Homo sapiens: one gene and its partners. The protein of the gene in region 4 purifies or fractionates together with the protein of the main gene of each other region. This does not show direct contact. Each region holds a gene or a part of one and is shown on either strand. Other genes may lie near its edges. The genes, in order: MTCL1, PPM1G, ZNF644 and ZNF223.

Evidence for each region.
Region 1: the proteins of ZNF223 (region 4) and MTCL1 purify together in Homo sapiens (affinity purification with mass spectrometry; 2 studies listed by BioGRID and IntAct, with this or other methods). This does not show direct contact.
Region 2: the proteins of ZNF223 (region 4) and PPM1G purify together in Homo sapiens (co-immunoprecipitation; 2 studies listed by BioGRID and IntAct, with this or other methods). This does not show direct contact.
Region 3: the proteins of ZNF223 (region 4) and ZNF644 purify together in Homo sapiens (affinity purification with mass spectrometry; 2 studies listed by BioGRID and IntAct, with this or other methods). This does not show direct contact.

What each region holds. Positions count from the first base shown.
Region 1 is NC_000018.10:8,700,657-8,708,564, reverse strand, and holds the start of MTCL1 (microtubule cross-linking factor 1), read right to left. Parts: upstream 3,010-7,908; 5' UTR 2,905-3,009; coding exon 1,852-2,904; intron 1,808-1,851; exon of another isoform or gene 1,426-1,807; coding exon of another isoform or gene 1,300-1,425; exon of another isoform or gene 429-1,299; intron 1-428. UniProt on the Homo sapiens protein: Microtubule-associated factor involved in the late phase of epithelial polarization and microtubule dynamics regulation.
Region 2 is NC_000002.12:27,380,699-27,385,620, reverse strand, and holds the end of PPM1G (protein phosphatase 1G), read left to right. Parts: intron 1-532; coding exon 533-948; intron 949-1,528; coding exon 1,529-1,669; intron 1,670-2,020; coding exon 2,021-2,255; intron 2,256-3,015; coding exon 3,016-3,145; intron 3,146-3,392; coding exon 3,393-3,495; intron 3,496-3,815; coding exon 3,816-4,022; 3' UTR 4,023-4,422; downstream 4,423-4,922.
Region 3 is NC_000001.11:90,977,034-90,984,062, forward strand, and holds part of ZNF644 (zinc finger protein 644), read right to left. Parts: intron 5,338-7,029; 5' UTR 5,321-5,337; coding exon 5,277-5,320; intron 1-5,276.
Region 4 is NC_000019.10:44,055,009-44,062,037, reverse strand, and holds part of ZNF223 (zinc finger protein 223), read right to left. Parts: intron 6,930-7,029; 5' UTR 6,862-6,929; coding exon 6,847-6,861; intron 1,584-6,846; coding exon 1,457-1,583; intron 1,290-1,456; coding exon 1,197-1,289; intron 1-1,196. UniProt on the Homo sapiens protein: May be involved in transcriptional regulation.

The DNA of each region.
Region 1 (7,908 bases), on a different chromosome or scaffold from region 4:
GGAAACGCAGGTGCCACCTCTTACTCACTCTATGACCTTGGCCAAGTCATTTCTGTTTTAGGTTCTCAGCATCTCCGTCTGTGAAATACTAGTTATGATCATGATACCACCACCACCACCCTATGTTGTTGGGAAGATCCAGTGAAATAGCAAATACACTGTATCAGACTCCAGGCTCAGACACATTTCATTCATTGGGAAAAAATAAAGGAAATAACCAGTTGCACCAAGAATGAACTTCAAAATGATGGATAGCCTACCTTAAGATCAAAGATGCAATGAGAAACTTCTTTAAAGAAATACAGTTTTCCCTTGCACAGCAGTCATTTGGATAAACATCATTCAATCAGAAAGTAAGTCAGGGGTTATGCTAAGAGCCAGGGATACAAAAACAACAAGATTATCTTGGTCACCCTCAGGGAGCTTACATTTGTTGAAGATTTACAAAAGAGCTGCTTTCATGATGGAGTCACCCACAACATAGTTGCCTTTGAACTTCACTCCGTTGTCTATTACCTAAGAGTAAGTGACAAAAACAAACATACTATCTGAAATATCTTGCTTTAAGTCCCAATCTTTCTTTTATCACCTCTCTTTCTCTGCCTCACTGTTACTTCTTGCACAAAGTAAAATAACCACAAGGCTCAGTTGGTTGGAGCAGCTCCATAAGAAATTTAGGCTTGAGATCACCCAGCAGTTAATGTGCTCTGATTTCCGTGTGAACTGCAGACTTCACCACCATGCACCTTAAAGCCCAATCCTCAATCTCACTAGCCAAAAACTGGGCCCGTATTGGTTAGCTCATCATTTGCTGAGAAAACAGCTCAAATCACATAACCCACTGAAGAAGCAGGGCCACACCCCTGGGTTTGGTTGGCTGCTCATTAAGACTTAACAGATACACAGATTGATGCCACTGGAGTTGTTTACTAACCTGAAGATCACAATAAATAAAACAGTTGGTGTCAATACAACTCCCCTTATTTTCTCTCAAGTCACCTGGATCGTCCTGACCCCGGGAACCCCGTCTGCAGCACCAGGCCCCCTCCGTGGAGAAAAGATGGAGCCGGATTAAGCACCCAGTGCTAAGGCGACTAAGACGCCACTGCCCGCAGGCCCTGCCGGAAAATACTCAGAGAGTGCAGCAGGCGCCGCGATTCCTTAGAAAGTGCTGGCGTGGCCTCTCCTGACACAGAAAGCCGGCTCCTGGATGCTTACAAAGGACTGGCCCGCGCAACACCGTTGCTCCTCAACCCGGGCCACACTCCAAGGACCTCTACTGAGCTTCAGCTTGCTCACCGAAAACGGCGCGGCCCCCTCTACCCGGGATGTCGGAGCCCAGGAGACCCTGAGAGCCCCCAGCTCTTTCCGTAATTGCAGGAGAAGGGGCAAGCGGGTCCGTAGCCGGGGGCCCTCCAGTGGCATTATCCTGAACCGCCACGCCCGCACGTGGCCCGGCTAGAGCTCCCTGGCGAAGGATCACCTGTTCCTACAGGTGAGGCTGGCACGTTCTGAGCGGGGATGGGGGCGTCCGCTGATGTCCCCAAAACGATTACAGCCTCCTCTGCCCCAACAGGTCAACAAAAGTAAAAGTATCAGCGAAGAGACGCAAGAGTTCTAGACGCGAGAAAAGAGAAGTGGGTTGCGAACTGGCGGGGTCCCACAGGTCTTGCTTCTCCTTCCAGAAGTTTGGGCTTAAGTTGCCAATGCCTGACAATGCGGGGGTAGGACCGTGGAGAGCAGGAGGGAGAAGGCGCTGGACAGGCCCGGGAAGGAGGGGTTGGCGGGTCCCCGCCGCAGCCAGGCCCTCCGGGGGCGCCCCGGGACACCTGCGGCCGAGGCGCGGCTCACCTTGAGATAGTCGTTCTCCGAGCGCAGCTCCTCCATCTCCCGCAGCAGCTCTTCTTCCTCCGCCGCTGGCACGAGCCGAGACTGCTCGCCCAGGCTGGGCTCCTTGGGGGTCCCGGGGACTGGTCGCTCCGGTGGCGAGCGCCCCCGGACATCCTCCGCCACGCCGGGCCCCGCGAAACCCCCCGAAACCCCGCTCGGGATGCTCCGGCCCCCGGGACAGGCGCCCGCGGCGAGGGGCGCGGCGAGGAGCGCTGGGGGCTCGGGGCTGCCCGGCGGCGCTCCTCGGGCTGCGGGGCTCGGCGTCGGCGCTCCTCGTGGGGGTTCACGGTCGCTGGAGCCCGTGCCGGATTCGGCGTCGCTGCTGGCGGCAGGGAGCAGGCGCTGCTCGTCGGACAGGGGTTCGGAGGGGCAGTCAGAGAGGTCGGAGCTGCTGTCCGTGTGGCTGATGCGCGAGCAGCGGGCCGGGGACCCGGCCACCGAGGTCACCGCGAGGGTCACGGCAGGGATCCGGGCGGCCGGGGTCGGGGGGCCGACGGTGCGGGCGGGTGGCGCCCGGGAGCCGCGCTTGGCTTTGCGGCCCTTGGCAGCGGCAGACGGCGGCTCGGCTCCGGGAGGCTTCCCAGCCCGGGACAGCGGCTCCGCGGGCGCCACGCGCGCCGCCCTCCTGCTTCCCAGGGCAGCCTTGGCACCGCCCGCCGCTCTGGCCCCGGCGCCCGGCGGGGGCTTGTCCTTCGCGCCCGGGACGCCGCCACTGCGCCGAGAGAGGCGGCCGGGCGCGGCCAGGGACCCCGGCGAGGGCGGCGCTTTGCCCGCGAGGTTGGGCGAGCGCGGGGCGGCGGGAGCCGGGGCTCGGCCCGAGGAGGGGACGGCCGGGCCGGGCGCGGCGGGCCGGGCGTGCAGGTCCTTGAGGAAGGGTCTGGCGGGCGAGGGCGCACGGTGCAGCCGCCGCCTTTCGGCCACCGGGTGGAGGTGGTGGTGGCGGTGGTGCTGGCCGGGCGGCTGCAGCTTCGCGTCCGGGGCACCTCCGCCCGCGGGGCCGTTCAGTGTCTCCATGGCCGGGTCCGCCGGCAGCAGCTCAGGCAGCAGATGCTCCGGACGACGACGGCGGCGGCGGCGGCGGCGGCGGCGTGCAGCCTCCCCGCGCGCTCTCTCATCACTGTCCCAGCCCCGCCCGGGCTGCGCCCCGCGCTCCCGCCGTCCCCGCCCCCCGCACCCCGGCCCCGAGGATTCCCGCGGGGCTCGCCGCCGCCGCGCTCGCCCCTCGCTGAGGTCACCGCGGATCGAGTTCTCCCGGCTCAGCAGCGCGGCGGCTCCCGGCCGCTCGCATCCCCGGACCTCGCGCTCCGGGCTCGCGGTCACCGGTGCCGCGGCGGCGCTGGCGGCGCGCGCCCGGCTCCCGCGTCCCGCTCCCCGCCCACCGCCGGCCCGCTGCTGCCCGTGCCCGCCCCCGCCGCTCCCGGCTGAGAGAAGCCGCACGCGCGCGCCCCACCTCCCCGCCGCCCAGCGCCCTCGCCCAGGCCCGTGCGCATGCCCCGCCTCCAGCCAGCCGGCGCCGTGCAGGGGAGGGGCGAGGGAAGGGGCGGGGGCTTGCGCTCCCCGGGGGGCGGGCGCCCGGCAGGGGCGGGACCTGCGCGCCCTTGGGAGCAGGCGCAGGCTGGATCCATGGGGCCTCGCTGCCCGGGGACCCTCCTTGCTTTTTGAGGCCCTAGAGACGCTGCCAGGAGCTAGGGAGGAAGGGAAGAGGCGGAGGTGAAGTGGTGGCAAGGGGCGGCGCCGGCCACTTGGGGAAGGCGTGTGCCGCGGCTGACAACACCCCTCTCATGCCTCTCCATCCACCGCCCGCCTCCCCGAGGCCAGTCACCTCCCTCGCTGTCCTCTCCAAGCTGTGCCCCTGGTCCCCGAGCTCCTTTAAGGATCGCTGGTACCCGACGCAGCTCTCGCGTCTAAACGGCACGGCGGGCGCTCCACAGTTGGCACCCCCGTGGCCTCGGGAGCTCAGGAGGAGCTGCTGCCCAAACAGGAGGAGCCCTCGCCAAACCTGGGGGTCAGAAAGGGAACTCACATTTATAGTTCCGGCTGCGAGCCAGGCCTGCTGGCCACTTACTGAGCAGTGTTTTATTTAAGCCTCACCACAGTCCCAGATTGGAATTGCTGTCTTCGGTGAAGACTAGGGCACCGGCGCTGGGAGGTGAAGTCACTTGCCTGCGATGCCTCACCCAGTCCCTAGCTGAGCGGGTTTAAACCCAGGTCTTCAGGATTCCGAGTCCTGCAGGCTTTCCGCTCAGAGCCCGGAGCCCGGCCACCGGTTCTACCACTTGAGTCTCCCATGCGCAAGGCACTAGACCTTTCTGAGCCCCAGTTCCCTCGCCTGTATCATTAAAACGTACTGCCACCTGAGCATGTGTGAAGATTTAGCAAATACCAGAACACACCGTGCAAACTGTAAAGTACAGTTCACATACCATTGGGTGCAGTTTATGTCCCAGGCGTTGGATGTTGGCCAGTGCCCATAGGAATAGGGGCCAGCCTGTCCTCCAGCCCTGGCGTTGCAGGAGGCAGAGGGTCAGGTAATAATTACAAGGAGGAGGGCGGGAGCATAACCCTGCCTGGTGAGGCTCGCATTTTCCTGGAAGGACGGGTTGGTCTCTCAGCTGAGGGCCCAGGACACAGTAGAGCCTGCAGAGAGCAGGGCCCCTGGGCGGGGAGGCAGGTAGGTTAGGGATTAGAGGGGAGACTGGAGGGTGTGTGGCACCAAATATCCTACCAAGGCCGTTGGGCATTATCCTAGAGGCGGTAGCCACGGGGTATTCTGAGCAAGATGATCTGATGTGCTCAAAAAGACCCCGGGGGCAGCAACCTGGAGGAGAGGGAGGTGGGCCACGGGAGCTGCGAGCGGCTGTGGCAGTATGCGCGGTGAGGGGGCCTTGGGAGCAGGGACAGAGAAGAGGGGGCCGACTCGCAAAAATAGGAGGAAAAAATCGACTCCAAAGTCTGTGATCTTAACCACAGATTTACCCTACTTAGCCATCTCCTTCAAAAAATGCAGGATGAACCCTTTTGTTGTAATCCCTACGTCAGGAGAGCCCTGCCCCGAAGTCGTCCTGCCTCGCCCTGGCTGAGCTCTGGGGGCACTGAGACCTCGCCTGCTCTGCTGCTGTTGTGGTCTTTGTGAGTCGTTTTTCTGGGAATGCCTCTGAATGGGAGACAGCACGCACGAAATCCAATCTCTACGAAATCCAATTCCTTAATCTCCTTTGAGGCTAATGCCCTAGCCGTTTCTCCAGCGTTGGGAGAAGGACACTGTTGGCTCCACGGTGGGCGTGGATGACGGCACACCTCGAAAGGCTTGAGAGGTGTTGGCCACCGCTCGCGCCGGGCCTGCTGTCCCCAGAGGGCCCTCTAGCTCTGCCCTTCCGTGGGAGGGGGCCCGCGGTCGGGCCAGAGCACAACTGACCTCTGCCTAGAACTTCCTCCAGAGGCTCTGAAGCCTCCCACACCCTCACATTTCCGAAGAATTATGGCCAGGACTCTCAGCACAAGCTTGCCAGCTTCTCATACCATATACACTCAAAGAAAGGGCCCCCCAAAAAAGTTTCAATACGCTAGTCTTCTAAAGACAGTAGCTTGATGACTATAGGATTTGCAGCCAGCTTCTCTTTCTTTCAGGTAATAAGTCAGATAAAATTCATCCTCCTTACTACTTATTATTAGCCTGGCAAATGAGACTACTAGCCCTTTGTAAGGAAGTATTCAATCAATGCTTTCTCTTTTTTTTTCTTTTTTCTTCCTTTTTTTTTTTAAGAGATGGGGTCTTGCTATGTTGCCCAGACTGAAGTCAAACTTCCTGGGCTTAAGCCATCTTCCCACCTCAGCCTCCCAAGTAGCTGGGACTACAGGCATGCACCACCCAGCCCAGCCAATAATGCCTTCTTTGTTTTCCAGTATTCAGTGAGTTACAGGTATAAAGAGATATCTGATTGCATAATAGATGTTTTTTAAAGTCACTCAAAAAAAAAAAGAAAAGAAAAGAAAAAGAAAAAGTGGTCCAGGCGTGGTGGCTCACGCCTGTAATCCCAGCATTTTGGGAGGCCAAGGTGGGCAGATAGCTTGAGCTCAGGAGTTGGAGATCAGCCTGGGCAACATGGCAAAATCCTGTCTCTACCAAAAAAACACAAAAATACAAAAATAAGCTGGGCATGGTGGCATACACCTGTAGTTCCAGCTACTTGAGAGGCTGAGGCAGGAGGCTCCCTCAAGCCCAGGAGGGGAGGTTGCAGTGAGCCATGATCATGCCACTGCACTCCAGCCTGGGTGATGGGAGTGAAACCCTGTCTCAAAAAAATGGGAAGGAAGGAAGGGAGGGAAGGAGGCAGGGAGGGAGGGAGGGAAAGAAGGGAAGGGAAGGGAGGAAGGGAAGGAGGGAGCAAAGAAAGGAAATACTTGATTTTAAATTCTTTTTCTGTTAAATCAAATTAATCTAAAGGTAATAGAGGATTTACTATTTAAGGGAACCATAGAGTGCTTATTCTGTGAAATAACAAAACCCAGCATGGGCGTGCCTGTTTTCATCTGCGTGCCCTCAGATCCAGTCTTGCCCCTCTGCTACTCTGATGTGAGTGGAAGTGTGGGTTTCCAGGCCGCTGGGTTTGCTGATTGGGTTTGGCCAGTGGAGGTGCCGTCAGGAGATGGGAGTGGACCCAGAAGGAAGAAACCAGGTTATTTCTTACTCTCTCTGCTGCAGGCGGCTTCTCTGGCAGTGGCTGGGTCTCTGTGAGGAGTGGATTTCTGAGGTTCCAGCCATCACTGGATGGACTACTCCTCCTGGTAGCTTTTCGTCCTCCACTGCCTCGTATCAAGGGTGGTGGTGCCTTCCTGTGCTTGCAGATCTCCGGGTTGCTTCACTGTGGCTGATTCCCTGCATTGCAACCCTGGATTGTAAATGCTGGCACAAGGCCCAGGGCCCCATCGTCTCATTCCTCTGCAGAGGCCCAAATACTGTCCTAGGGAGCTGCGTGCAGCAGTGGTGTGATGAGTAATGTTTGTGTGGCTGTGTTCACAACCTCTTTGTCCAAGAACGGTGTGGTATGGTGACAAGACCTGAGGCTTTGACACCAGGTAAATCTGGGTTCAAATCCTGCCCAAGTCATTTGCTGTCTGTGTGGCCTTGGGTAAGGTATTGTTATCAAGTCATCATCATCATTTAACACCAGTGAAATAATCTTCAGAATCATCATCATTATTTAACACCAGTGAAATAATCTTCAAAACTCTTAAAATATGAGCAAACCAGATTTTTCACTCAGATTCCAAACTCTCACTCAGAGAGTTAGAAATCTATTCTGTGTCTATACAGTTATATAAAGAGAAATGAATTCTTTTTTTACTTGGTTTGACTCATAGACAAAAAAAAAAATGTGACTTACTCAGGACTATACTTCACTCTATACTCCCAGGCAGAATTATATGCAGAATTTCTATACCTTTAATACATTGTCCAAACCCAGGCATATGTGTATCTTCCAGTTTTTCCCCTTATTTTAACAGAAAGGCACATTTAAAATATGAAAGCATTCCTGGTTGAAGTCATGAGAAATCATGAAATCATACTCTTTGAAAAGAATGGAAAGAAGAGGGAATTTTTCAGAGTGAGTGGCTTTTTGGGCACTGCAAGAAAGTTAACCTTAAAAAGAGACAACCTAATAATGCCTGATCCCCCCGCCTCCCCACCACCCGCCAAGGTTGAAGCTGGAGTCTGCATCCAACACTGGGGTCTGTGGGGACCTCCCAGCTCTCTTTGCAAGGGTGATTGCCAAAATGCCACATGGGACCTGAAAAAGGCTTCATGTCCAGATTGGCAGCTGTGCATGGCATTGGTGGTGACAATGACAATAACTTAAGAGGCTCTTAAACCTTGAGGTCATTAAAATCTCCTGGTGAGACTGTTAAAAATGCAAATTATCTGGCCACATCCCCAGGGATCTGATTTAAGAGATATGAGCCCAGAAAGCTGTATTATTATTATTATTATTATTATTATTATTATTATTATTATTTTGA
Region 2 (4,922 bases), on a different chromosome or scaffold from region 4:
ATGATGTTCTCCTGCATTGTATGTGGTTATGAAAAGGAGGGAGAGAATTATCTTCGTTGAGTGGCATCTGAGCTGTAAGCATTGTATATACATTATCTTTTGTCATTGTGATGGGGTCTTCCTGGTTCCTGCTAGTATTTATGTGCTTTTTTTTCCCCTCAAGACTGGAGCAGTTATTAGCCCCAATAGCCAATCATTAAGCCTAAATCCTAATTCACAGTAGCATTGTGGGCTTCCTGGATCCTCAGCCAGAATAGGGTTTTTACAACTTAACAATAAAAAATGAGACGTCAGAGGGGAAGTATAGTAACTAGTGTTGTTTTGATTAAGAAGGGGATGAAACACAAAAACCAAAAGAAGTCTGTGGAGGAGGAGGAGCTAGGGCATGTTCTTCTGAGACTTGAGCGAGAGGAACCTTGGGAGTGGGAGGTTGTGGGGAAGTTAGAGGCTGCAAGGGCTGTTGAGGTAGTGAGAGGGACGGATCCCATGAGGAGTCTGGCATGGGGGCTCTGATTTAGCCTCTTCCCTGCAGTGGACAATGAGGAGGCTGCACTGCTGCATGAAGAGGCTACCATGACTATTGAAGAGCTGCTGACACGCTACGGGCAGAACTGTCACAAGGGCCCTCCCCACAGCAAATCTGGAGGTGGGACAGGCGAGGAACCAGGGTCCCAGGGCCTCAATGGGGAGGCAGGACCTGAGGACTCAACTAGGGAAACTCCTTCACAAGAAAATGGCCCCACAGCCAAGGCCTACACAGGCTTTTCCTCCAACTCGGAACGTGGGACTGAGGCAGGCCAAGTTGGTGAGCCTGGCATTCCCACTGGTGAGGCTGGGCCTTCCTGCTCTTCAGCCTCTGACAAGCTGCCTCGAGTTGCTAAGTCCAAGTTCTTTGAGGACAGTGAGGATGAGTCAGATGAGGCGGAGGAAGAAGAGGAAGACAGTGAGGTAAGGGCCTGTGAGGGCAGGCAGATGCTGAAGTTGCAGAGAGGTCCTGTTTGGTTGCCGTCTGTAGTTTTCAACTCTCTTTCCTTCTCCTATTTTGACATCATCCCCCAAGACCCACTGTATTCTAAGCTTTAGTCTTGAATTCATTGAGCTCCATCATCACAGGTACCATTTGCCTTTTTACCTCTTCCTTTGTTGGTACTATAACAAGCAGATCTAGTTCTGGCTTTTCAGAGTCTGTCTCCTAGAGAGAGAACAAGGAGATAGTTGTTACCTTGGCTAGTTGACTGTTTTCTTCTCTGGAAAATTTATTTTCTGGCCACAGTGCCTGAAAGATATTTTTGGCTGGCAGCCCTTGCCTTGTCCTGGGCTTTTTGCTAGTGACTGCTAAGCCCAGTTCAGGATGTCAGTTGTACTCATGCTAGCCCTTTCCATCCCCCCAATTTTCATGACCATATACTTGTATCTTTCAGTGTTTTGAGGACCTGTGTTCAGTCAGGACCTCTTGATTCTGAGTATGAGCTGTGGGGAGGGAGGGGATCATCCCAGTCTCAGCAGTCTGGGATCCTCCCCCTGGCAGGAATGCAGCGAGGAAGAGGATGGCTACAGCAGTGAGGAGGCAGAGAATGAGGAAGATGAGGATGACACCGAGGAGGCTGAAGAGGACGATGAAGAAGAAGAAGAAGAGATGATGGTGCCAGGGATGGAAGGCAAAGAGGAGGTGTGTGGGGAAGGGGAGCAATGAGTCTTGAAAAGCCACAAGGCAGGTGTGAATCCCCTAATTTTGATTTTGAGACAGGGGATCCCCCTGATACTTTAGGATGGAAGTAATAGTCATGGGGATTTATTCTGCAAGGGGAATGAGATGGTAAGCCTTTGGGGTTGAATTATCTAAAAACAAGGGAGAGGGAGTGTGCTGCTGTCTCTAGAAAGATGAAATGTGTGCTTCTCCTGTTTGTTAAAGCTCTTTTGGGGGTCCCAGTGAAAGCAAGCATAGGTGAACGATCAGGAGCACATCAGTGAGGAACGCATGTTCAGAAGCCCCCATGATGCTCCTTTTCTTCCTCTTAAGCCTGGCTCTGACAGTGGTACAACAGCGGTGGTGGCCCTGATACGAGGGAAGCAGTTGATTGTAGCCAACGCAGGAGACTCTCGCTGTGTGGTATCTGAGGCTGGCAAAGCTTTAGACATGTCCTATGATCACAAACCAGAGGATGAAGTAGAACTAGCACGCATCAAGAATGCTGGTGGCAAGGTCACCATGGATGGGCGAGTCAACGGGGGCCTCAACCTCTCCAGAGCCATTGGTAAGGGCCAAGAAACTGGGAAAGACTTCTAGGGTCTTTCTCTCTGTCCCAGACTACCTAGTAGCAAACTTTAATCTTCCTAGTGCTTGTGCCTTTCAAAGCACTTTAATATCTACTACCTCTGTTCTTATATTTCTGTGAAATAACTAAGATGGGTAGAGGTATCATTATACATAGGTATCATTATACCCATCTTATGTAACATTTGAATGATGAAAAAGACCTGTGAGTGCCGGGCGTGGTGGCTCACGCCTGTAATCCCAGCACTTTGGGAGGCTGAGGCTGGTGGATCGCCTGAGGTCAGGAGTTCGAGGCCAGCCTGGCCAACATGGTGAAACCCCATCTCTACTAAAAAAAAAAAAAAATACAAAAATTAGCTGGGCATGGTAGTGCAAGCCTGTAATCCCAGCTACTCAGGAGGCTGAGGCAGGAGAACCGCTTGAATCCGGGAGGCGGAGGTTGTAGTGAGCCGAGATCGTGCCATTACACTCCAGCCTGGGCTACAAGAGTGAAACTCCGTCTCAAAAAAAAAAAAACAAAAAAGACTTAAAATAAAAAGACCAGTGAGTGACTTTCTTAAGGTTCAGCAGTCTGGTGGCAGGGTTGAAACTAGAAAAACTAGGACTTAGGACTCAGTTCCCCATTCCACTAGATTATGGAACTTTGTAAAGAAGGGAAATGAATGGCAAGGTTTGACCTGCCACAAACACAAGTCTGTGGGAAGTATCCAAACTGCTCATCAACCATTCCTTTACTCCAGGGGACCACTTCTATAAGAGAAACAAGAACCTGCCACCTGAGGAACAGATGATTTCAGCCCTTCCTGACATCAAGGTGCTGACTCTCACTGACGACCATGAATTCATGGTCATTGCCTGTGATGGCATCTGGTGAGCACTGGCAGAATGCCCTAAATTCCCCTTTCTGCAGCATGTCTTCTCTTATAGGACTCAGGGCACCTCTAGGATTAGAGCCTAGGCAGACCTAGGCCTCTTGGTGGGTGAAGAGCACCCAGACTAAGGCAGAGCTGAGAATTTCTGTAGTTATTTACACTGGCCTGGGCCACCACCTCTGTCCATACTCCTCTACGCTGCCTTAGTGAGACTGGAAGATTCTGACTGTTGTTCTTGACCCCAGGAATGTGATGAGCAGCCAGGAAGTTGTAGATTTCATTCAATCAAAGATCAGCCAGCGTGATGAAAATGGGGAGCTTCGGTTATTGTCATCCATTGTGGAAGAGGTGAGTACCAGGGTGGAGAAGAGAGGGTGTCTGGTCTGCACAGCCAGGGTTCACTCTTTTAATCTGAGCTAAGTCGGCAATCTGGGAGCATTATCAGTAATTGCTGACAGACGCTAAACCCCGACTCCAAAGTTCCACCTTCTGTCATTTCCCTGACTTAGCCTTATGCCTTATGGACTAGCAGGTGGGCCGTTGTGTGATACCTCTTGCCCATTCCTCTCCTACCACCCTGACTCAGCAAGCCAGCCCTCTTGTGGGACTGTAGATTCCTGGCAAGGTGTTCAAACCCTGTGGCTGAGCTACCCCCATCCCTTTCTTAGCTGCTGGATCAGTGCCTGGCACCAGACACTTCTGGGGATGGTACAGGGTGTGACAACATGACCTGCATCATCATTTGCTTCAAGCCCCGAAACACAGCAGAGCTCCAGCCAGAGAGTGGCAAGCGAAAACTAGAGGAGGTGCTCTCTACTGAGGGGGCTGAAGAAAATGGCAACAGCGACAAGAAGAAGAAGGCCAAGCGAGACTAGCAGTCATCCAGACCCCTGCCCACCTAGACTGTTTTCTGAGCCCTCCGGACCTGAGACTGAGTTTTGTCTTTTTCCTTTAGCCTTAGCAGTGGGTATGAGGTGTGCAGGGGGAGCTGGGTGGCTTCACTCCGCCCATTCCAAAGAGGGCTCTCCCTCCACACTGCAGCCGGGAGCCTCTGCTGTCCTTCCCAGCCGCCTCTGCTCCTCGGGCTCATCACCGGTTCTGTGCCTGTGCTCTGTTGTGTTGGAGGGAAGGACTGGCGGTTCTGGTTTTTACTCTGTGAACTTTATTTAAGGACATTCTTTTTTATTGGCGGCTCCATGGCCCTCGGCCGCTTGCACCCGCTCTCTGTTGTACACTTTCAATCAACACTTTTTCAGACTAAAGGCCAAAACCTAATCGTACGCATCGTGTCCTTTTTTTTCTGCTGCCGTGGCCCCCGACTTGGTCCCATCTGTAGCATGTGGCGAGCCCCCATGTGAGTGTGTGCGTGTGCTCGTGTGTGTCCTGCGCGTGTATAGGAGAGCCCAGAGCGAGCTGCTGGTAGGCCGGCCTGGCGGGCGTCGCGGCTGCCCCTCGCCCCCTCCTGCAGCCAGAAATGATCTAGTTCCCCCAGGGACAGGTTGGGACCGGTCTGGCTGGCCTGAAGCCTGGAGTCGGGCAGGACGCCTCCTGCGCTGCTCCCTGGCCGGCTCCCCGCTGCCGCTGATTGGCTTGCTCCCCGCCTCGTCACAATCACTTCCCGGTCACGCCATTGAGGCTCCCGCCGCGGCCGCTTCCCACGGACTACGCGTCCCGTGCGTCTCTGCGGCGGCGGAAGCGGAAGCGAGTACGGAGGTACCAGCTGGTCTCCGTAGGGGGGTAGGGGGCTCCATGAATGGAAGCGGCGGCGGCGGCGG
Region 3 (7,029 bases), on a different chromosome or scaffold from region 4:
TAAATACTTAAAAAAAAAAAGGAGTTCACTCACATTAAAGCTGGAATTAAGACTAACAACTGTAGCTTATCATACATAATAAGGATAGTAAAAAATAACCACAAAGAAGCAAAGTATTCTAATGATTGCGTTGTAAAAGACATCAGATTTTAAGCAGTCTGCTATCAATCTAGACTTAATGAACCTAATATTTAGTAATGGCTTTTATTTTCTTTTTATTTACAGGCTATGCTGATGTTAGTTTGTAGCAAACTATAAAGAAATTTACCATAAGGAAATATTTATCCTAAAAAAATAGTATGAAGGGAAAAAAAGGCAAATAATCTGATTATTCAATATTAAATAACTTTGACTGTAATACCTAAAACACAAAGGTATGTTAATTGATGGAACTGATGGACTTAACAGTAAAAAATAAAAATCTTCACATATATTCTCCAACAGAACTTAAGTTGTAATGAAGGTGATATTTCAAACCTTTGAGCACTCTCACAATTTAAAAAATGCCCAGTAAAATAAATACCACTTTCCACCAATTAGACTAGCAAGGATAAAACAAATATTTAGCAGAATGTGGGAAAACAGATATTCTCATAAACTAGCAATAAGAGTATTAAGTGGTACAACCTCATTGCAGTTTTATTACATCAGAAGTTAAAGGGCACATATCCTTGATCCAGCAATCTACTGCTACAAATTATCCTGACACTCTCACACACTCCCGTTAATACCATCAAAAATATTTATTGCAGCAGTACTTATATACAGGCAAAAAATCCTGAGACTTACCTAAATATTAATAAGGTAACAGTTATAATAAATGTGGTAAATATATGGAAAAATGTCCAAAATATATTGATAAGCAGAAAGAAAAAGATGTAGAATACATACCAGCTATTTTTGGTAACTTATGGGGAGTATAGTGCTGGGTGGGAGAGAAGAGTTTTACTTTTTACTTTAAACATTGCTGTACTATTTGCTCATAAGGTCACATGTGACTTTTATAAAAAATTTATATTTTGAAAATACTAAATGTGGCCAGGTGCAGTGGCTCACGCCTATCATCCCAGCACTTTGGGAGGCTGAGGCCGGTGGATCGCCTGAGGTCAGGAGTTTGAGACCAGCGTGGCCAACACAGTGAAACCCCATCTCTACTAAAAATACTAAAATTAGCCAGGTGTGGTGGCATGCACCTATAGTCCCAGCTACTCAGGAGGCTGAGGCAGGAGAAACGCATGAACTCAGGAGGCGGAGGTTGCAGGGAGCCAAAATAGTGCCATTGCACTCCAGCCTGGGCAACAAGAGCAAAACTTTGTCTTAAAAAAAAAAAAAAAAGTGAAATACTAAATACTAACTGTTACTTGGCAATACAGCTGGAAAGGGTCAATGTACGTTGTACAATCTCATCTAGAATGAAGGACAAAGAATTTTATTAATTAAAAAGTCTTCTTTTTCATGCTACAACAAAGGGCAGCACATCTACAATGCTACTAAAGAAACTGAAGTACAGAGAGGTTAAGTTAGAAATTAGAGAAATTAATCTAAGACAAATATCCATAAAGAATTTCAAATCCTTGGATTCGGGGATTCTGCAGTCTTAGCAGCAGCTGCCTATGTTAAATATTGAAGCACAAAATGAAGACGAAGACTCTGCAACGGAGGTACAGCTAGCAGCCTCTGAGAAGAAAAATTAGTCTAAAGTCTTTGTGGAGACATGTAAGTTAGGCAATCTCAAGGTTAAATTTCTCTGGCTCCTCAACTCTAACCAACAACATGACTAAACACACTTCACAATCAGGATTTAAAAAAAAAAAAAAAGAACCAAGGTCTATATACGGTAAGAATCTATGTCTAAGAAAACCCTTGTGGGAAGACAGAAGGAACAGCATGAGAAAATGTCAACGTCTAACTCTGTGTTCAAACATTATGGCAGAAGCTGCAGAAAGGAAAAGCAACAAATTGATCCCTGTGGGGAAGAACCTCTTCTTGCTTTGGACTTGCTAGAGGGCAATCAAGCTTCAGGCATAAAAATCTCCAGATGATTACTATAGCCAACCCAACTAGCCAAATTTCAAACACAGAAAAAAAAAGAACCACTAGTCAAAATGCTTTAAAATTTAAGAAGTGTGTTATTTCTTAAGAGAGTATATTGTTTAGGCCAGGTGCAGTGGCTCACACCTGTAATCCCAGCACTTCGGAAGGCTAAGGAGGGTGGGTCACCTGAGGTCAGGAGTTCGAGACTAGCCTGACGAACATAGTGAAACCCCATCTCTACTTAAAAAATACAAATTTAGCTGGGTGTGGTGTCGCATGCCTGTAATCCCAGCTACTTGGGAGGCTGAGGCAGGAGAATTGCTTGAACCTGGGAGGCAGAGGTTGCAGTGAGCTGAGACTGTGCCATTGCATTCCCACCTGGGCAACAAGAGCGAAACTCCATCTCAAAAACAAAACAAAAAAAGTATATAGTTTATATATGCTACATTACATATCTACAATTTAAAAAAATTTAAGTACCTTTAAACAAATAGCAAGCTTCCTAAGCTGTGGGAATCAAAAATGTTATCACAGTTCCAGGCTATGATTCTACAATTTCTTCCTCCATCCTAACAGTTTTTTACCTTCAGAGAAATAAGGAAAAGTTTTCTTCACTTCTTACACGTGTGACTAGTGTTCCCAATCTTCTACTTGTATTAGTCTAACATTCCAAAATCTTTAAAGAAATAACTAGTACAAACCCACAAAGAAAATACTCTTCATAGCAAACACTTCAAATTTCTGCAACATGGATTAATACCTCCACTTGGAAATACTAATCAAAATCAACAATGACAGTCTTACTTTAGGTCTGAATTAAGAATATTTTACTAGCCACTGTATTTCAACTGGATTGAATGAAGACTTGGGAAATATTTTATTTCTCTTTCTAAAATGTCTATAATGCTGTCTGTGGATTATCCTCAGTGGCTCCTTCCTATGGCCCAACAGCAACTCAAGTGCCAATGCCCCCATCCCATTCCAGCTAGCATTCTGAATCTCTATTTGCCTGGGAGAACTCTTTTCATTGGTCAATGTTTAACAAAACATTTACTGAATGCACACAGTATTCCCAGCACTGTGCTAAGATAAACGAGACATGGATGGTATCTACCTTCAAACTCATACTCTAATAAAGAAGACAAACTACGGCCAGGCATGGCTTAAAGGATCAGATGATGCTTCAGATAGGCTATTTCAGAAGATAAGCTGACAACTAGCAAAGAGGTCTCTGGCAACTGGGGAGGCATGGGATTGAGGGAAAGTGACAACATGTACCTAGGACTAGAACTAGGAATATGAAACATCATACTTAGTTTATTCATATAATCCTCAGCATTCTGGCATAGCTACGGTGAGATAACTGCATGCCGTGTTATAAGGTTTACTACATTTTATTCTGAAAGTGATGGGGGACAATTAAAGAGACAGGTAGAAGAAGGAAAAGAGTATAAAAAAGTTAGCAAGTAGGAACAGAGATATGGAGAATCCAATAAACCAAATCACTGAGAAAACATAAATACTTTGTAGTGTGTTCATACAATGGAATATTACTAAAAATAAAACAGCAATAAAAAATAATGAACTGCTGACATAGTCACAACATAGATGAAGCTCAAGAACATTATGTTGAATGAAAAAGCCACATACAAGAGTACATACTATATATAAAATCCAAGAACAGGCAAAACTAAATTATGCTGACAGAATTCAGAAAGATGATTACTTCAGGGGAAAAGGCTATTAGACTGGAAGCGGGGAAAGCACAAGGAACTTTCCAAAGTAATGAAATGTTCTATATCTTGATCTAGATGGTGGTTACACATATGAATGTGTATGTGAAAAGTCATTCAGCTCTATACCTCAAATTTTATGTTACCATATATATGTAAACTATACCATAATAAAAAAGAAAAAACTACATATATAAGCATGGTGAAAAATAAGGTCAGAATAAGTTAAACCAGTGTCATCCCACAAGCAATATCAAACATAGAAAATCAGAACAAAAGTTTTAACAGACACTGTATATTCAACTAGAAAACAAACCCTAATAAGACCTTCAAGTACAAAAGAATGGCTTCTTCTCCACTTTAAGAAGATACATAGGCAAGTGTTATTTCTAATAAATGCTACAGAAGTAAATTATTATTCCTAAAGAAAAACAGCCCACTATAAAGCAAAAAATAAAATTTTTCTACACAACAAGAGGAGGTACTATAACGATCAATAAGGTATGACAAGCACTTAACAGAATTTAGAGCACAATAAGTACTCTTCAAACTACCACTACTGTTATTATTATATAATAGCAATAAAAGCAAAATTTTGCTTCAAAACATGCCCAAACCACTGACTGAGATTTCCTTCAGTGCATATTACTGAACTACAGCACTTTTCATCCTAGACTTTTTTTTTCTTTAACAAACATTGAGATCAGCAAATTTTTGACAGCTGAAACATCTGGTTAGAGGGAAAACCAAGTTAACTCCAATTTTTTCAATGTTCTTTTTCCCTTGTTTCCATTTTGAAGCCATATTCACTTACCAATAAATAGTAAATGTATCTTTTTAAAACATGTCAACGGCTTATATTATTAAAAAGCATTCTTTCACATACCAAAGTACATGATGCCAATTCAATTTTTTAAAAGTGAACAGCCTTAGAAAGCTAATCAGAATGCTATATTAGAGAGGTCATTCAGTAGAGACACCCACTAGGAAAACATTAAAACAATAATTTACAATTTTGAATACTATATTAACAGAAAGAAATCACAATTTGGCAAATTTATCCCATTTGGGAAAGTGCTTCCTTAACATTAAAAATGAAGCAAAATTCACAAAAGCAATGACTATTCATATACTTTATCAACAAAGGAGAGAACAATGAAGTGACACAATAAATGTCTTACTGAAGTGGTCAGAGTTCAATAAGAGTGGCTGAACCAAACATTAACTTGATTTTCTAACATTTTAGAATATTCACTGGAAACTTGAATGCTTTAGTTAACCTCAACACAAAAGAAGGAAACTAAAAATTTAGTTCCACAATGTGATAGTTATAATTTTACTCCCATCAAATCAACTGGACCAAGTGTGTCAAAAAGTCAATTATTTGCATTTCAAAATTTTATTTAAAAACTCTTTGGTTCTGAACTCAACACCACATTTTTAAGACATAATTTTTTTGTATTATTCCTACCTTGATATGTACATTTAACAAAGCAGTCTTCTACTTACCTAGATTTTGTCTTATTAACATCTTGCTGCAAGAACGATCTCATCCAAAATTAAATCAAACCTGAAAGAAATACACACAATGACCAAGGTTTAATTTTTTGTTTCAGGCATGAATAACCATAGCTACAATACACTATTATTTTAAATGAAAAAACACAAACCAAATTATATTTCTTGATATAACATAAAAAAACCATTCAACCAGAATACCATCATTTTAATCTTTAGGAAACTATTGCTAAGTGCCCCCCAACCTCACTGCTTTTTTTGAGAAATAATAATCTATTCAAATGAGAAATTGAAACTAATTCTTTTTTTTAAAAAAAATTCTAAATTGTTTTCATTAATTTTAATAGTATGGCAATGGCAATAATTAAAATAATTACTAAAACACACATCTTTCTAGATCAGTATTTATTTAATATTATGTACATATCAAGACACACACCAAACAGCTGAAGACAAAAATGTTATAGTATTGGAACACATAAAAGTATATACACATAAAAGTATATAACAAAGTAATTTGTTAGAGCAACCACAGTAATTATCATAATAGCCAACACTGATTACTTACTAAATGCCAAGCATCATTATTCTAGAGAATAGAATGTATCAATACTCCCCATCTTCAATTTAATCTTTAATCTAGTATAAAGTGACTTCTACACCAACAATCCACTGAACATGCATTTGCCAAAAATATATCCACCATTACTAATTTTACCATATTTCAGAACTTCTGAAAACTCAGTATGTCCCACACTCTACATATCTCCTCCTCCCCATACCTGAAACTAGCTTGTGACTCTTCTAAATTCTCTATTCTTTAAAAAATAGCACCACCACACCTACCTCTGTTCTCAAGCTAGGTTACTTTAACTGTTTTATTTCCAAACTATCATCTCTGATTTGTCCTTCCTAGAACCACAGACCTAGAATTTTCTGCATCGTATCTAGAAAAGATGAGATATTTTCTCTGCCACCCAATGCCATCATCTCCCACCAACCCAGAAGTGGACATGGGGGCCTGTTAAAAACTAAACTATAAAATAAAAGTAAGAACATTAAAAGTCTATTATAAACGACTGAGTGGGATAAGCTGAACTATTGCCCCACAAAAGACTTCCACACCCTGATCCCTGAAATCTGACAATGTTACCTCATATGGCAAAAAAAAAAAAAAAAAAAAGAAGAAGTCTTTGTAGATATGATTAAATTAAGGATCTTGAGAGGGAGGATTATTCCGAATTATCTGGGTGGACCACAGTGCAATCACATGTATCCTTATAAGAACGAGACACACACTGAAGGCAATGAGAAGACAAGCGGAGAGGCCGGGCACAGTGGCTCACACCTGTAATCCCAGCACTTTGGGAGGCCAAGGTGGGCAGATCACCTGAGGTCAGGAGTTCGAAACCAGCCTGGCCAACATGGTGAAACCCCGTCTCTACTAAAAATACAAAAGTTAGCTGGGCGTGGTGGCACGCGCCCGTAGTCCCAACTACTCAGGAGGCTGAGGCAGGATAATCTTGCTTGAACTCAGGAAGCGGAGGTTGCAATGAGCCAAGATCACGTCGCTGCATCCAGCCTAGGCAACAGAGCAAGACTCTGTCTCCAAAAAAGAGGAAGAAGAAGAAGACATGGCAGAGAGAACTGAAAATGCTGCTTTCGTAGACTGGAAGGACATGGGCCATAGCCAGGAATGCCAGCACCCACCAGTATCAGGGAGAAGCAAGGAATGGATTCTCTT
Region 4 (7,029 bases):
AGATGCAGTCATAAACAAACAGATAAACACCTTGTAGAGATTATATTTGAAAGGGAACAGGTGATCTATCAGTAAACAAAAGCATATGACACATAATACTTGCAGGCCAAGTAAAGATAGGATGGTATTTTCAATAGGGTGCTTGAAGATGACCTCTTCCATGACATTAAAACTCAGCAGACACCTGCATAAACTAACAGAGGGGGTCAGTAAGTTTTGTGGGAACAGAGGACTCCAGTCAGAGAGAAAAGCAAGTGAGGGCCCTGAGGCAGAAGCTTCTGTGGTAGGGAACATAATTGTTCCTGAAAGATGTCCACATCCAGCCTTCAGGACCTATGATTCTGACACATTACACAGCAAGGCAGATTAAGGCTGCAGATGTCATTGAAGTCACTAATCAGCTAAGCAGAAAGTAGGAAAGTCAACTTGGATCATACAGGAGTGATGAATACAACCACAAGGGACCTGAAAGGTGAAAGACATAGGCATAAGAAGAGTGGCAGAGGGAGCATGACTCTGGAAGAATGGTCAAGGATGCAATGTAGCTGCCTTCAAAGATGGAGGAATGGAAACTAGAGCCACGGAGTGTGGACAGTGTCTAGGGACTGGTAAAACAAAGTGAAGCCTTCTCCCCATGAACATCCAGAAAGGAACAAAGCCCTAAGACAGCTTGATTTTTTCCCAGTGAGATGTGTCAGACTTCAGGCCTAAAGAACAGAGAAATAATAAATGCTTCTTATTTAATCATCTAAGTTCGTGGTCATTGGGTACCAGCAACAGGTGATACAGTGTCCTTGGCAGGATGGAGAAATAAGAGGGATGACAAGGTGGCCAGAAAAGATGGAGAATGAGGGAGAGTATGGGAGATGTAGTCAAGAAGCAGTGAAAAATGAAGAGTAGACCACAGGGGTTTCTAGAAGCAACTTAAAGAGGCTTTCATAAAATTAAGAAGACAGAAAGGCTCTTAAGCTGAGGAATGACAATCTGACATCCATGTCCTAAGGATCACTTTAGCTGCCATGAGGAGAACAGATGTCAGAGTGGGAAGGCACGGAGCAGGGCCACTAGCTGGAAGGAGGTTATCATAATCCAGCAAAGATGTTTGGCCATTTAGAAGAAGGTAATGGAGTTGGACGTGCACAGAAGTAAAACAGATGGAAGTCACAAACAAGGACACACAGTTGCGTGCTTCTTACCTGAATTCCCTTCCCTTTGGGTTGCTATATCCATCATCCAAAACTTTTCCTCCCTTAGAAAGTGGAAAGTATCTCGGTGGAATGGTTGATGCCCTGTAAACAGGAAAAGTCACATGCTTAATCCCAACATATTCTAGATAATATCACGGTAACACTTATTGGAAATTTAGGTTCCCACTGCACACTCAAACTTGAACACCCTAGGATACAAAACCACTCCTGGGGCCTGACATTCCCTTATAGAAGATGCCTGTCCTCACCCACTGACAGCAGGTTCCTGAAGTTCTCCAGCATCACATCTCGATACAGCTTCCTCTGGGCAAGGTCCAGCAGCCCCAGCTCCTCCTCAGTGAAGACCACTGCCACATCCTTGAAGGTCACTGCCTCCTACAGCATCAAACATATGCAACCTCAATCTCACTACCAATGGTTACTGGGAGAGAAGGAACATTGAGGAGGCCAAGAGGAAAAATGGAAAGTTTTTCAGGATCTTCAGAGATGTAGGTCAACTTATAGAATTCCCATTCATTCTAGTCTGTGTCCTGACAATGACACACCTTGATTGTCCCAAGCGTCATCAGAAGTCCAACGACAAAGAAGTCTTGTGGTCTTATTTAGTGAACTCATTGAGTTTACTTGTATGTAGCCCCCTAGGAGTCTAAATGCTGCATACTGGGCTACACGTATATAGGTTTCAATGAACCTTGCTAATAGTCCCAGCGACAGTGAGCAATTCAGTCAGTATCTGCCCGACCTGGCAGCCGGTTGATGAGGCTGTGGCTGTGAAACCCCAATCTCAGTATTCCCAATAATTATTTTTCCTTTTCCCCTTTATAATGCACATCCTGTTGGTAATTTGCGGTTCAGATCACCGCGGTAACTGACAAAGGTCCTCCTGACTCTAATCTGGAGGTGATGCTTTCCTGAACATCCCCTGACTTCTATGGGATCCCACAGTGGTGAAGAATGAGACCACGGAATACCATAGGGGTCACCAGGGTCCTTCTGATGGTACTGGGGACACCTGATCCCATTTGGGTGGCTGGCACTAGCAGGCATTTTTTGTATAGGACGTGACGTCCCTTCCTGACTGAACAACTGAGGCAGGAAGGTCTGAGCCAAACAACCAGGGGAATGGATGTCTACAATGGTAGTAGCCTCAGGACAGGGACAGACAGACTGGGTCGCTGCACCACCTCAGCCCACCCACTATCCAACAGCTATTAATCTGCTGTTCCCCCAAGGATATGGCAGCAGAGGCCTGGAAGCACAGCACATTCCTTATCTCAAGCTGCAGTCACCTCATGTCACCTGGCTAAGTGTTCCATCTGCTACCCTGCATTTATTCTATCACCAACCACAGTGACCCTCTCATCCTGACTATGGTAAACCACACCAGCATCCTTCATGCCACAGTGCACACCAACAGCTCCATAACCCTGGCTTGTCACGTCAGAACCTGGCACCTGCCACATGAGAGAGAGCTGGAGGGCCCTGTGGTAACTGGTGTAAGGCAGCAGAATCACACAACCTCAACAAAGCTACAGTGGACTGTGCTTTCTCGCACCATGTTCCTTTGATTACCTGGATGAGAAATGTTCCACATAATGAAAACCAGGACTGGATGAGTGGTATTCCTCTCTGTAAGGGCCGCATGAATGTCATACTGGGGGAACTGACCTTATGCAACTGTGCCAAAAATGAGATGTGGCTGGCAAAAGATAATGTCCCCATTCCCACAAATGGGTCACAGAACACCCAAACAAGGGAATGGGTGCTGTGTGCACCTGAGCCTTATGGCTTTCTCTGTGGTTGGTTTGGAGGGTGACCCAGATACAGGGTGGGCAATGTCATGCCTGGAAAGCTGGCAGACTGTTAGATCCCAAACATTAGGCATGCTGGGGGTGCCCCTAGATGTCACCCTGGAAGCGAGATGCACCACTGGGCAAGAAGGCTAAAGCTGTGCCCCAGGCTGACTGGGGACCTGCCTGGAGGTGCAGCTAGCTCCAGATTTATGTCCTACACCTACAAGTGAATTCCCATGAAAAATGATGAGACACCTGCCATAGGCAATGGCCGATAGATACTGTTTATTCCACGGCCACTGCCTTGGGAGCCCAGCAACATCCCTTCACTCCCTCAGGAAGGTTCAAAAAACACAAGTGCTCTGTGCTTTTAGCCCTACTGGGAGGAGTGGGTCTGCAACTGCCAACACCTCCGGCCTTCTCTGGATACATAGCTATTGTAAAAACTCAATGAGAGGCAACCCAGAAGCAGGTCCACTGGCTTCAGACACTGGGGCCACCTGAATGATTCTTCTTTGGTATCTTCAGCAGCTTCTTATTTTGATAACTGGGACCTGGGCAGGATTACTACTTCAGGAAGGTCTGGCTGTGCTGCTTGTGGTCATGCTCCTCTGGGGTCCACGGAATGTATTCCAGCTATAATTCCATGAAGTTGGCAGAGATTGTGTCAGTCAAGGTGTTACACTGATCTAACAAGATCAGGGGAGGCCAGGGGAGGTCGATGGACATATGAAATGGACCAGTTTGCTAAGAGGGATATCTGGGTCAGGGGATGGACTGCAGGACAGTTGGGGTGCAGACCCCACCCAGCTCTCTCCCCTTTATTGCTTGTAGTTCTCAAGAATAACTGTAGATTATTCTAAGAATGCAATATTATGGGGAGGAACTGCCTTTGACAGTCTGGGCTTTGTTCCTCTCTCACCTGGAAGGAAGATGACCTTCAAGTTTTTCTCCATGAGTCATGGCACCCTGAAGTATATAAATGGGGGCAGGTTACCTTCTGGGGTGCCTCAGCTCTGGTGCAAGTGGGGCACATACAGTCAAGATTCCATCTGCTCCAGGTAGCTTTCTTGAGCCCTGGATGGCCAGCTCATACTGGACCCTAGGCTTCTGGGCTCGCCTGCTGCCAATCTGTAGTAATAAATCTGCTTCATGCAATCTGTTGCGTGTGAATGTGTTCTGTCCCACAGGACTCACACGAGTTGGTAATCAGTGCACAGTGAACCTGCTCCATGGTACCCTGAGACAGTTATGCAGTGTGTCTTCTGTACTCGCAAGGCACAAACCACATATGCTTATTGCAGCATTTAGTGTCCTGATCAGAAGCCAGAATGCCTCAGTGCACATTCTGAGAGTCTGCCCATTTCTAACCATGTGACCTCAGACATGTTTTCCTACAAGGCTTGTTCCCTCTCTGAATAATAGTTCTTACATGACAAGAGTTTTTTCAAGAATTAAGAAAAGAAATATACGGTATTTTGAAAAGTCTACGGCACAGACTGTTTAATGAACATTAGCTGGTATTACTTATTACTGTTATTACCATTATCTATTTCAGGGTTCCATAGTATTCCAGGGAACTGATGATCTATTTTTAGCTACACTAAATAATAAATATTTAATTTCACATATTTTCCATTATCAGTCCGGCCAAGATGATATGGTAAGTAGTAAGATGTAAGAACATCTGACTCTGTCTCATTTAAAATAATTTCATATGAAAATTAAAATGTGAAAAATAAGCACATTTAATATTATCATTATATAATTGCATACTTTCTTCTCACTTTTTTCCCTACCTCTCTAATCATTCAACAGAATACAAGTACCCTAATTCTCCTTATGATAGCCAAGAGCAGTTTATAAATATTCCCATGGTTTTGTAATCTGATTAGGAAGAACAATTCATTCTATCATTCTCACTTATTATTATAAATGAGTATCACCACTTTTCAAGATTATTGGCGATCTCTATTTCTTCTTTTACAATTGCCTTTTAGTATTCTTTGTTCCAATCTGTTTGAACTTTTTTCTTTATCCTTTTAGAAGATTCTTATTCTGGATTTATTCTTCCTTAACTATCCAAGGGGTAAATATTTTTGCCCCAGGTTGTCATTTTTTCTGGTAACAATGTGTGAGGCGGGCCGGGCACGGTGGTTCACGCTTGTAATCCCAGCACTTTGGGAGGCCGAGGCAGGCAGATCATGAGGTCAGATCGAGACCATCCTGGCTAACACGGTGAAACCCCGTCTCTACTAAAAACACACAAAAAAATTAGCCGGGTGTGTGGTGGCGGGCGCCTGTAGTCCCAGCTACTCGGGAGGCTGAGGCAGGAGAACGGCGTAAACCCGGGAGGCAGAGCTGGCAGTGAGCTGAGATCGCAACACTGTACTCCAGCCTAGGCAACAGAGAGAGACTCTATCTCAAAAAAAAAAAAAAAAAAAAAAAAAATGGTGAGGCATTTTATGCCATAAGGAGGAATTTAGGGATTTTTTTTTTTTTTTTGAGACAGAGTCTCACTCTGTCACTCAGGCTGGAGTGCAGTGGCGCGATCTCGGCTCACTGCAAGCTCCGCCTCCTGGGTTCACGCCATTCTCCTGCCTCAGCCTGCCGAGTAGCTGGGACTACAGGCGCCCGCACCACGCCCGGCTAATTTTTTTTTTTTTTTTTTTTTTGTATTTTTAGTACAGACGGGGTTTCACCATATTAGCCAGGATGGTCTCTATCTCCTGACCTAGTGATCCACCTGCCTCAGCCTCCGAAAAAGTGCTGGGATTACAGGTGTGAGCCACCGCGCCCAGCCAAAGAAAAAATGTGTGAGGTATCTTGTGCCATAAGGAGGAATTTGGAGATAAGAACAGCTGTGGTAATCACTGTCCTTGGGTACTTGGAACAATGAGTACACCTGAGTAGGTGCCAGGTCTGGAAAAGAAGAGGTCACACCAACGCAGGACAGGGAGAAGCAGCGCCACCTATGGATGTCATCACTCAAGGGAGCACTCCAGACATCCACACAACAGGTCACCAGACCCTCAGTGGAGAATTTTTCTTTCTTCTCGTCTCTCTCTTTCACTTGAGCAGAATGGCTAACATTCCTGTTCCTTGATTGCCTCTGATTTTGAGCAGGTTTCTCATATTTCATGAGTTTAGGAGAAGAGATCAGGAACCTCCTCATTCTGCTGCTTTGAGAAGTAAATGAGTGACAGTACACAAGTGACTGGCCAATCTTCAGTATTACTAGACTTTTTTTGTTTTGTTTTCTTTTTTGAGACAGAGTTTCACTCTTGTTGCCCAGGCTGGAGTGCAATGGCCCAATCTCAGCTCACTGCAACCTCCGCCTCCCGGTTTGAAGTGATTCTCGTGCTTCAGCCTACCGAGTAGCTGGGATTACAGGCATGTACCACCATGCCCAGTTAATTTTGTATTTTTAGTAGAGATGGGGTTTCTCCATGTTGGTCAGACTGGTCTCGAACTCCTGACCTCAGGTGATCCGCCTGCCTCAGCCTCCCAAAGTGCTGGGATTACCAGTGTGAGCCACTGCACCCAGCCCAGTATTACTAGCCATTTTAAATGAAGGCTTTCTGGCTGGGTGCGGTGGCTCACGCCTATAATCCCAGCACTTTGGGAGGCCGAGGCGGGCAGATCACTTGAGGTCAGAAGTTCGATACAAGCCTGGCCAACATGATGAAACCCCATCTCCACTAATACTACAAAAATTAGCCAGGTGACAAGAGATCCTCAAAGTCCTGCTGTTCTCCTTGAGTCTTCCCAGGGCAGAGAAAAACACACAACAATCTGAGTAGTGAGATGGAATTTTAACAGTAAGAGAGGCAAGTCCTACTTACCTTGGACATGGTCATTTTTCCTCCTACTTTAGGGAATTTGCAGAGTCCTGAATGACACAGTTCCAGGGAAAGCAGAATTGTGCCTGGAAAGTGCCATGAAGACAGAAAAAGAGACATGAAAGGGTGGCCAGGGATGTCACCCACCAACAAGGACTCATATTGTCAATTAGCACATGAACGCTC